Linked DNA regions of Homo sapiens: regions 1, 2 and 3 are each linked to region 4. The links come from fine-mapping of genetic effects on gene expression. A gene starts in region 4. Each other region holds a variant in brackets. All regions are shown on one strand. Distances are from middle to middle. Region 1 overlaps FAM168A (family with sequence similarity 168 member A). Region 2 overlaps FAM168A (family with sequence similarity 168 member A). Region 3 overlaps FAM168A (family with sequence similarity 168 member A). Region 4 holds the start of RELT (RELT TNF receptor).

Region 1 (2,684 bases), 210 kb after region 4:
ATTTTTAGTAGAGACGAGGTTTCACCACGTTGGCCAGGATGGTCTCAAACTCCTGACCTTGTGATCCGCCCACCTCGGCCTCCCAAAGTGCTGGGATTACAGGCATGAGCCACCGCACCCAGCCAACTTATTTGTTTATACCTTGTCTCTATTGCATCTGGAGCTCCTTGAAGACAGCAACTACACCTTACTCATCTCCGTGTATCATCAAAACCAACCTAACATAGAGGCTGATATCCATGTTGACTAAAATAATGCATAGATGCATAAGTGATTATTTTTGCTTGCTACAAAGACTCTAATCAGCAAAATATTTTGGGGAATCCTAATTAAAATTGCCTGCCAGAGGCCGGGCACCGTGACTCATGCCTGTAATCCCAGCACTTTGGGAGGCCAAGGTGGGTGGATCACGAGGTCAGGAGATCGATACCATCCCGGCTAACACAGTGAAACCCCATCTCTACTAAAAATACAAAAAAAATTAGCCAGGCGTGGAGGCACACACCTGTAGTCCCAGCTACTCGGGAGGCTGAGGCAGGAGATTGGCATGAACCCAGGAGGCGGAGCTTGCAGTGAGTCGAGATGGTGCCATTGCACTCCAGCCTGGGGAAAAAAAAAATTGCCTGCCAGAAACTACTAATGGCTTAATAGGGTAATTAAAAACCCACATTTCTTAAAGTCTCAATCTTTCTACCATCAAATAGTTAAGTCAAGTCTTATATTTCAGTTGTAAAAATCAAATACACAAGCATTTGATACAATTTGGTTTTATAGCATTCATTTTATATTATCTACAAATTAAAACTGACCAAAGGTTAATAAAGAGGAAACTTTGAAGCAGAAAAAAGAACTCTAGACTGAGTCAGAAAAGCAATCATAAGGTCCCGTCTTCTCCATTTACCAATGTGATCTGCATTCATTCCAAGTGAGATTCCAGGGATCCGTCATAAATCAAGTTCTTTCTGAGTCTCATTGTGTCTACTGTGTACACAGCTCCACTGACCCAGCTATGGGCAAAGAGTAAAGGAAAGCTACATGAGAGTGGGCTAAAGTAGAGTAGAGACAACACAACGGGCAGGGAGCAAGGGGCAACAACAATGATAGAAGACACTCTATTAAAACTCAGCCCAGGCCAGGTGCAATGGCTCATGCCTATAGTCCCAGCACCTTGGGAGGCCAAGGCAGGCGGATCACGAGGTCAGGAGATCAAGACCATCCTGGCTAAAAGAGTGAAACCCCGTCTTTACTAAAAATACAAAAATTAGTTGGGCATGGTGGTGCATACCTGTAATCCCAGCTACTCGGGAGGCTGAGGCAGGAGAATTACTTGAACCCAGGAGGCAGAGGATGCAGTGAGCCGAGATCACGCCACTGCACTCCAGCCTGGGTGACAGAGCAAGACTCTGTCTCAAAAACAAAAACAAACAAACAAAAAAAACTCAGCCCAGAGCAACATGGAGTAACTGACTCATTGGGAAATTACAGCTGTTAATAGGCCAGTTTGAAATGATGGATTCACCTGACATGTCTTTACTGATGCTTATTCTGTACAAGGTCCCAAGATGGGCTCTGAGAATAAAAGGATGATCAGATACAACTCCTGTCC[A/G]CTGCAAGTGGAAGAGACCAACAAATAATAAATGGATAACCACAATCAGAGTAACCCAGAGATGGGGTACCCAATCCCAACCTAGGAAATCACGGAAAACCTTCTGGAAAAGGTTATCTCCTAGGCTGAGTCTTAAAGGCTAAGTCAGAGTAGACCAATTAAGAGTAACAAAGAGATATCTAGGCCAAGAGAACAGCACGTGCAAAGACAGTGAGAAAAGAGGCACTGCACATCTGAAGAACTGCAGACATAGTACAATGCAAACTTCAGGAGTACTGGAGGTAAAACGCACAAGCCAGGAGGAGAGACAATAAATGACAATGGTGAAGAAGTTGGGGAGAGGATCTTGAACTACCTCAGATACCATATTGGGAAACCTGGACCTCATCTCAAAGGTTTTAAGTCAAGAGTTTAACACTAACTCCTATCTAGGAGACAGTGTCCCTACAATGACACTTGGTTGAAGGGCAGGCTTTCAGGCATGCTCATTTTAAAGGGTGTTGGTTTTTCCCTTCATAATTATACAGCCTGATCAAAATGTAAGTAAACACAGAAATATATTTTTAAAAACACTCCTTTGCTTCTGGGGCAGGGGATTATGGAGAAATACTGTACCTCCTCAATGATGATTGATCTAGTCAGAAAAAATTTAGAAAGGGGTGTTTTTTACATTCACTGACTTTTTTTTTTTTGAGACATTGTCTCACTCTGTCACCCAGGTTGGAGTGCAATGGCATGATCAGTGCTCCCTGCAGCCTCGACCTCCTGGGCCCAAGCGATCCTCCCACCTCAGCCTCCCGAGTAGCTGGGACCACAGGCATGTGCCATCACTCCCAGCTAATTTATTTTTATTTTTTTGTAGAGATGTTGCCCAGGCTGGTCTCAAACTCCTAGTCTCAAGTGATCCTCCTGCCTTGGCTTCCAGAAGTGCTGGGATCACAGGTGTGAGCCACCATGGCTGGCCCACTGACTTTTTTTTTTTTTTTTTTTTTTGAGACGGAGTCTTGCTCCGTCACCCAGGCTGGAGTGCAGTGGCGCAATCTCGGCTCACTGCAAGCATCGCCTCCCGGGTTCACGC
Region 2 (2,684 bases), 26 kb after region 4:
CAAACATGAGCAGCAGGCACCAGCCACACAATAGATGTCAGCTTTATTGCGCGGATGGCTCAATGGATTTCAACTCTGAATGGCCTCACTGTGCTCCCACATCACACACTTAGGGTGGGTGCTGAAGTTGCCACTTAAAGCTCCCCAGCAGCTGTGAGACCCTTAGGGCAGACCCCTGTCAGATCAGCTGTAAGATGTACCATAGGTTTTTCTTGACTACTGAGAACAAATTTAGCATCAACTTGGGGAGACGCCCAAGGGACTCACTGGCCCAGGACAGTCCTCTGTGCCTCCCTCCCCAAGAACCACTCAGTCTAGTCACCTAAGACTTTTTTTTGGGGGGGAATTTTTTTTTTTAATAGTTATTGAGTGTTCTACAGCTTACAGTAAATACCATAGTTACAAATTCTTGGCTTCAATCTTTCAGAGTGATCACTGTCTGATCTTCAAAACAAAACAAAAACCCAAAAGAATCCAAAACAACAAAACAAAACCAGATTTACACTTCATACACACAGGCAAGGCCATGGGGCTTTCCAATCTTTACACTCCGGACTGTGTTTTGAAAACACCTATAAATTCTTTGATCAAACTACTTGGAAGACACTGGTCAAAGGTTTATTATTATTATTATTATTATTATTATTATTTTAAATTTTATTTCTTTTTAAAATGTGAGTTCCAATAAAATTTAAAAATTAGATTCCAACCTGTAGATTAAAATGAATTAAAAAATACAAAATCATATACAACGCTCTCTTCACAGGGATGTTACATGCCATGAGAACAGGTTTCTCTGTCATGTGATATGAAACAGGGAAGCAGATGCCTTTAAGTCAGGATGGGGACAGGCCCTTGGGCCTTTCAAGATTATTACAGACAACTCCAAGTAGCTAGAGGCCTGGCCTTACCCCCCCTGGGTAAGGAGGAGCTTGAGTCACACCATAGATCCAGACTATCTGGCTGACCCGAGGAGAAGGTCTCTGGGACAGTCTCCTCTCTTTCCCTGACTCTCTTAGGCCTGAGGAGAAAGGCTGGGGTCTGGAGATGCTGGTCTTGCTGGGGTCAGGCCCAAAGCTGATCTCACCCATTTGATTCCTATGGGCCGGTACTTTGCAAAGCTGTTACATCTGTTCTCCTTAGGAAGGAAAATCCCCCTGCTATCAGT[G/A]GCTGGAATGGGTAGAGGACCTCTACCACAGCAAGGATATCCAGGGACTATCCATGTGGCCATAGGGAAGCAAGTGCTGTTTTGTCCCTTTCTAGCTTTGTGGCAGCCAGTCCCAACTCCTGTGTGCCTCGGTTGGCCTTTGGGTTGGACTCAACAGCATGCACCACAGAAGATATCCACTGGAGAGACTGAGGGACTGGGACCCAAGTCTGGCTTAGGCAGGGCTGGCCATGGAATGTTGAAGCTGGCCTGCCAGGAATTTTGAAGGCTGGGTCCTGGAACCATATAATGCCTAATTTCAGAAACGAGGAGTTTTCTAGGAAAGGGGCAGATAAGTAAAGGACAAACCCTGCAGCCCCCTTGGCATGCCTGCCTGTGCGCTCAGAGGCTCCGGTGTGGAATCCCATCAGTTAGTCTGGCGTGTTTCTTCAGCTCTGCGGGTGGGTCCCAACTGGCCCACTCTACTACTGCCCCTCTCTGGATTCCCAAGCTTGGCAAGCAGCGGGGGCCGCACAGCCAGTAGTGATGTGGGAGAATACAGGATGGAAAAGCAGACTTCCACGTATTTTCACTTAACTGCAATTGAGGAGGAATTCTGATACAGATGGTGATATATAAGACAAAGTTCACAGGGCCCAGAATGGGGCCCACCCCCTCTGGGCACAGAACAAAGCTGAGGAATTTGATATGGAAGCTCTGAGCCTCGCTTAGTCAGTGCCTCGCTGGGAACCTGGATGAGTCCTATCTGTATGAGGAGCCAAAACTTGGTGACCAAGGGGCCTGTCCTTTTATACTTCATGTGATTCCTTTCTGAAGGCCATCAGAACAAAGCAAGCCCTCCAAAGAAGGACCCCCAGATCTCTGGGAACGGGGTACCTCAAACTTGGAACAATTCGGGTGGCCAGGGGTAAGGATGCTCAGAGTCTGGTTCTGGTCCTCACCCATGGGAAAAGCAAGCCCAGGGACTTCAGTCTGTACGTTTTGTACCAACTCACTGGATCTGGACAGTGGGCAGGCTCTCAGGGATTAGGAAGCCAGGTGTGCAGGCTTACCAAGGACATGGGTCTCCCAATAGAAAGATGCCTCGTGCTGTCCTTGAACATGTCTTCGGTCCTGGGCATTGTGACCCCAAAGTGTTTTGTCCAAGTGAGGCCTTTAGTTGCAAATTCTCATCCTCCTTGTGCTGCCAGTTAGATGTGCCTCTGGGTCCCTCCCCAGGGCTCATTACAGGTCCTGGCCCAAAGCAGTTCATACAAATCTGCTCAGCTCAGAGACTGGGCTTCCCAGCTCTATAAAGTACAGTTAGCCCCTCCCTCCATGCTTGCCAAGAGACCCAGCAGGTGGCAGCAGAAAGAGCAGAGGATTTGAAGAATCACTTCCAAGCTGTGTGACCTTTTAGCAAGTCTCAAGCCTCCTGAGCCTTAGTTTTTTCATCTATAAAATGGAGGACTTTGGCAACCAATGTCAAAGTACTTTGCATACCAAAAACGCTCTGGACAGGTGTGTGTGTCTCTGC
Region 3 (2,684 bases), 74 kb after region 4:
CCTTAGCCTCCTGAGTAGCTGGGACCACAGGTGTGCGCCACCTAATTTAAAAATTTTTTTTTGGAGAGCCAGGGTCTCTCTATGTTGCCCAGGCTGGTCTCCAACTCCTGGGCTCAAATGATCCTCTTGCCTCAGCCTCCCAAAGTGCTGGGATTACAGGCATGAGGCACCGCACCTGGCCTAAGCTACTGTTAATCAAGTCTTCCAGTAGCATATTCTGGCATTTATAACTGATGCATAGTGAGTGATAAAACAGCGGAGCTGAGATTCAAACACAGACAATTCTTAACTACTAAGCTACATGAAAAAAAAAATCTGGCACTGGATTTACTAGGGAATGGGTACTCAAATGATGAAAATAACTATAATAATATGAATCACTCGGCCTACCTTCTTAAGGCTCCAAGCTCCTCTGGAAACTCAGGATGGTTAGTAACCTAAATTACAACAGAACTACTTAGGATCAGGTCCCCTCTTTGGACACTGTGCCCAGCCCTCTTGTCTGCATTTCAATTCAGAGCTCCCAGCTGGGGATCCACACTAAGGCGGGAAGAGGGTAGGAAGGTTTGGAGTCAGGTCTTGACTCTTTGCCCATCCCCACCTATCTTATGGTACCACGAAGATTTCAGGCCTCCTGCCATGCAGGCATAAGGCAACAGAGTCCAATGAACTCAGCATAAACTTACAAATTGTGACAGCACTTGTGGTAACAGTGAAGGCCAAAGCTTCTCCTTGGTAGACAGAGACCTTTGGAGGTAACAAGAAGTATGGTTTTGTAGCTTAAACAAGACCAAGGACTACTGATTTTTCTGCATCTTCTCCTGCTGACAGCAGTAATAGCAAAAATCTGATTTAGACACTTAAATTCAAGTACCTTCCCCATCAGCTGAGCAATTTTCAAGTAATCACACTTTTGACCTTACTCAACATGAGTCCTTTTAAAGCCAATTTTAGGGGCCAATTATTTAGTTTTCCTAAAATGTGCAAGGGAAAAGAAAATTGTTGGCTATCCTGCTGGAAACTGGCTTGCATCCCTGTGTCCAGGGTTTAGGACCACCCAATCTGTCTTGAGAAGGTGCCAGCAGCCCCTCCTGTCATAGCTGACACATGTGTGACATTTGACACATAACCTGCTTCTAAAGCTGTTTTGAACTTGAAGGAATTATGACATTCATGATGGCAAGATTCCTAGACAAGCTCACAAAATTGGGAGAGAAGAGGAAGACTATGGAACATTTACTAAATGGGAGATAGGTCCATTAGAATCATCCAGA[G/A]AGCTTGTAAAAACACCGATTTTGCTGGGAACCACCTCTAGGGTTTCTGATTCTGTAAGTCTGAAGCTGAAGCCCAAGAATTAGCATTTCTAGTAGGTTTGTAGGCCCAGGGGTTACATTTAGAAAATCACTGCTATAAAGTATAAATCAATTATTAGTCACAGAGACTTTGGAAACTGACAATTGGGCACCTCCAGATGCTGGAAAAGTTTCTCCATCCGTAAGAAAAGGTTCACTGTATCAGGATATTCACCTAGCTTATGGCCTTTTTTCCCTCCCAAAAACAAAACGACCCCCCTTCTCCACTCCCCTCCCCCCAAATCTAAACAGCAATAGTGACAGGTTTCAACTGGTTTCTTTTTATGGACCAGACAGACCCTGAATGCTCAGAACATAGGGAAATGCCTGTGGGTTTTCACAAGGCAAAGCTGTCTCTTAAAAAAGATGCTTTGAGTTCAGAAGAGGAATTCTCCTAGAAGTTCCAGACAATATACCCTGAAAGAAAGGACAAGTCTACAGTGGAGGTTCTCTAATCTCCCAAAGTATGCATATACTACTACTAGCTGCTACTAAGAAAAAAACTCTTAGACCAGCTTTTTCCACAACATACCTGTGCTTATTACCATAGTAAGAACCAGGAATGAATAGGTGCAAGGATGGAGACGAGTGTGTGCATGTGTGATATATATTAGGGGTTGGGAAGACAAACATAAACTAGATAATTCTGAGAACCCCTTCATGGCAGCTTAGGAGCTATCTAAATGGGTTACAGGTTGAGTTGAGATACTGATTCCTTAAGCTCTTAGGCTGTCTGGGAAGAAGGTGAGGCATAAGAGCTCCTGGGCAGCTTTGTCTATCTATCCAGAGTTCCCTATAAATAATGTAATTTTCTGTGTGAAAGCACTGGCTTAGAGCTAAATGTGAATTACTGTTTAGAGAAGACCCTCGGGACAAAAAGCCTATTCCAAACTCTCAGGTCAATTTGCCAGAGAGATTTATGGACCTCTGAAAAGGCTTCGTTATTAGAGGTTTGATCATTCAGTCCTTTATTCACTCAACTAACCAATATTAATTGAGAGTTCACTTTGTGTTAGGCACTTTGTGTTAGCACTGAGAACACAATGACTGCCTGCAATAGCAATGGGTATTACTAAAGATATAAACAATTATAAGACAGTCTACAGTCATATGCTGCATAATGACAGCATATATGAAGGTGATCCCATAAGATTATAATACTGCATTTTTACTGTACCTTTTCTATGTTTAGATACACAAACAACCATTGTGTTACAATTGCCTACATTATTCAGTGCAGTAACATGCTGTACAGATTTGTAGCCTAGGCTATACCACATAGCCAAGGTGTGTAAGTAGGCTGTACCATCTACGTCTGTGTAAGTACACTCC
Region 4 (2,684 bases):
TCACTGCAGTCTCAACTTCCTGGGCTCAAGTGATTCTCCCACATATTTTTGTAGAGACTGGGCTTCATCATGTTGCCCAGGCTGGTCTCGAACTCCTGGGCTAAGTGATCCTCCCAACTCAGCCTCCCAAGGTGCTAGGATTACAGGTGTGACCACTACACCTGGCCTTCCCCATTTGGTTTATTGAGTGACGACACCTGAAATTGCCACCATTTGAACTCTAGAACCTAGAGCTGGGGTGTAGATGGTCCCCTTACAAAGAAAACATTTCCAGGAGTGGAGGCATTCTGGATGCTCTGGCCTTCCGTAGGCTGGGATGTGGGACCCTGGAAGAACCCCTGCCCCAGCCCTGGAGGTCTCCATTGACATATGAGGGTGCTGATGTCATGATCCTGACATCAATGACCTGTAGCTCCTTATGCCCTTCCCCCACAACCTGAGCATGACCCAGGGAAATGAAAACTCATCCCCTGCTCCCCTCCCCATGCGGTGTCCAGTTCGCCTCCTGGAATCTCCTGGACCCTGGGGACCTGACCTTTTCCGTCTCCTAGCCCCTGGGTTCAGATTCTATGACTGTTTAGAACCCCACCCCCAGCCATCTATCCCCAGCTGACTTATTTACCTTCCTTTCTCCATCTCTGTCATGGGCTGTGATTATCCTGACCCCAGCCAGGCCTCTGGCCCAGCACTAGGTCCTCCCTGGTGTCTCAGTCTCCCATCAGCCCTACTGTCCCAGGAGGACCGCCTGAGATCCCCTGAATAGTACTGAGAGGGGGAACGGGCCACTGAGCTGCTCCCTCCAGTCCTGGCACACCCTGTAGCACAACTCCAGGGGACACGATTCGGAGTCGGAATACAGTGTGAATACTGCCTGGAGTTTGTGATGACTGGCATTGGAAACTGGCAGGGTGGGATGGCTGTAGTAGGGAGGGGGGCACTGAGTCACCTGTCCTGCTGGAGGGAAACTAACTACCCTGGCACAGAGAAGTGGTGCGGGGAGTAGGGGAGTGGAGGCAGGAGACGCCTCCTGGAGGATTTCACTAGGCCTTGAAGGATGTGCCGAAGCCCACCGTGTGGGCTTCCTTTATAGACTCACCTTCACCAGGCCTTTTCGCCAACTAGGTGAGGGTTTCCAGGGTTGGGCCTGGGCCTCGTCAACAAAGCAAAGTGAGGTTATTCTTCCTGGCCACCAACTGGCAGGAGGAAGATGAAGCCCAGAAAGGGGCAGAGGTGGCTCTAGTTACACTGGCAATGCTGAGAGGACCCAGAGGAGTATCTCAGTCTCCAGTCTCTTTATCTTGCTTCGCACAACTCCTTGCTTGGTTCAGAGCCTTGAAGAGGCGGATACAAGAGGCCCTCTGGGCACCGCCGCCCAGTCCCGCGCAGCCCCCTGCAGTTCCCAGGGGCGCGAGAGAGGGCGACGTAGAGCAGCACCGCCCAGCGGCAGAGCGGCGAGCCCCTCCGCGGCTCGGGGTGAGTCGGGCGCGGGGCGCAGACCGCGCTCTGACGTCGGGGGCGGAGCGGCCGTGACGCGCGGGGGCGGGTCTGCGCACCTTCCCGGCCCAGCCGGCGATTCATTCAAAAGGCGCGCAGGCTGCGCGGCTGTCCGGGCGCTCGCCGAGCCGGGCCGCGGCGCCGAGTCGAACGGGGAGCCGAGCTGGAGCTGCCGCGGCGCAGCCAGGTAAGGAGGGCGCGCGGAGCGCCCATCCAGAGTCTGCTCTCCGCGGCCGGGCCAGCGGGATACGGACCCTAGTGGCGCCCCCTGCCTCCCCGTGTCTCTGAGGAAGTTCGCGGGCTCGGCGGATGCGGCAGCCCGGCCGCGCGCCCCCCCACCCCACTCCTCCCGCCTCGCGTCCTGTCCCGGCGCCTTCCGCGCACCGGCCACCGCCAGTCTCCGAGCCCCGTGACCTGCAGGTCCTCCGGCCGCGACTCCGGGCCGGCCCTGCGTGGTGGCTGTCGGGGGGCGCGCGGGGAAGCAGCGGAACTTGCGGTGTGAGGGGCCGGCGGGGCCCGGAGCGGTCCCCGGCCCGGGAAACTTGGACCGAGACCAGGTTGTGGTGCGGGCTGGACGGCGGCGCCTCGGCGCGGCTGCGGCGCGGGGCGGCCAAGGGGGGGTCTGGATGGTGTCAGCCCGTGACTGTGGGTGACACGGCGCGTGAGGCGGCCTGGCCGGGCGAACGTGTGGCTGGGACACTGGGCGGTGACGCCGGGCCGAGCGGGCGACACAGAGGGGCTCTGTGTGTGGGAGACAGGCAGCGTGTGTGCGTGTGTTGTGTGAGGGAAAGACCCGGGGTCACTGGGGTCACGAAGTGCGTGGCTTGGGGCGTGACCGGCGCAGGGCCAGGGCCACCCGTTACTGTGAGTGTGAAATAGAGGGAGAGGAGCCCAAGTGACTGAGAACGAGCCGAGCTCGCTGGCGCCATGGTGTGCGTGTGGGGTCAAGTGGTGTCAGTGTGTGTGTGTGTGTGTGTGTGTCTGCGCCTAGGGTGATGATGAGTAAGAGGCAGGAGGAGGAGGGACCGGACCTAGGACACCTTCCGGCAGATGTGGGGCGATGAGGAAGTTGGGGAGCCAGGAGACAAGGGTCTCCAGGACTGTCCCCACGAGGGCACCCCTCAGGAGTTCAGCTTGGTGAGGAGATGGACCCTGAGGGATAGGCCCTGGCTGAGGGAGAAAGCCGAGGC

The links. PIP is the estimated chance that this variant, and not a neighbour inherited with it, causes the effect.
Region 1: its variant is the best candidate, but not a certain one, in a credible set for the expression of RELT in whole blood (INTERVAL, PIP 0.74).
Region 2: its variant is the best candidate, but not a certain one, in a credible set for the expression of RELT in whole blood (TOPMed, PIP 0.68).
Region 3: its variant is the best candidate, but not a certain one, in a credible set for the expression of RELT in whole blood (TOPMed, PIP 0.52).

What each region holds. Positions count from the first base shown.
Region 1 is chr11:73,581,893-73,584,576 of GRCh38, forward strand. The region is part of intron 1 of FAM168A (family with sequence similarity 168 member A); the gene reads right to left. Among named protein-coding and RNA genes, the nearest start is that of FAM168A, 15 kb to the right of the region's middle. The variant A/G (reference allele first, on the strand shown) is at 1,607.
Region 2 is chr11:73,400,463-73,403,146 of GRCh38, forward strand. FAM168A (family with sequence similarity 168 member A) reads right to left here. Exons shown (of 8, transcript NM_015159.3): 8 at 25-2,684. Among named protein-coding and RNA genes, the nearest start is that of RELT, 25 kb to the left of the region's middle. The variant G/A (reference allele first, on the strand shown) is at 1,169.
Region 3 is chr11:73,449,089-73,451,772 of GRCh38, forward strand. All of the region lies in intron 2 of FAM168A (family with sequence similarity 168 member A), which reads right to left. Among named protein-coding and RNA genes, the nearest start is that of RELT, 74 kb to the left of the region's middle. The variant G/A (reference allele first, on the strand shown) is at 1,275.
Region 4 is chr11:73,374,819-73,377,502 of GRCh38, forward strand. RELT (RELT TNF receptor) reads left to right here and starts at 1,581. Exons shown (of 11, transcript NM_152222.2): 1 at 1,581-1,681. RefSeq lists silencers at 1,301-1,610, 1,641-1,930, 2,021-2,100 and an enhancer at 2,266-2,560.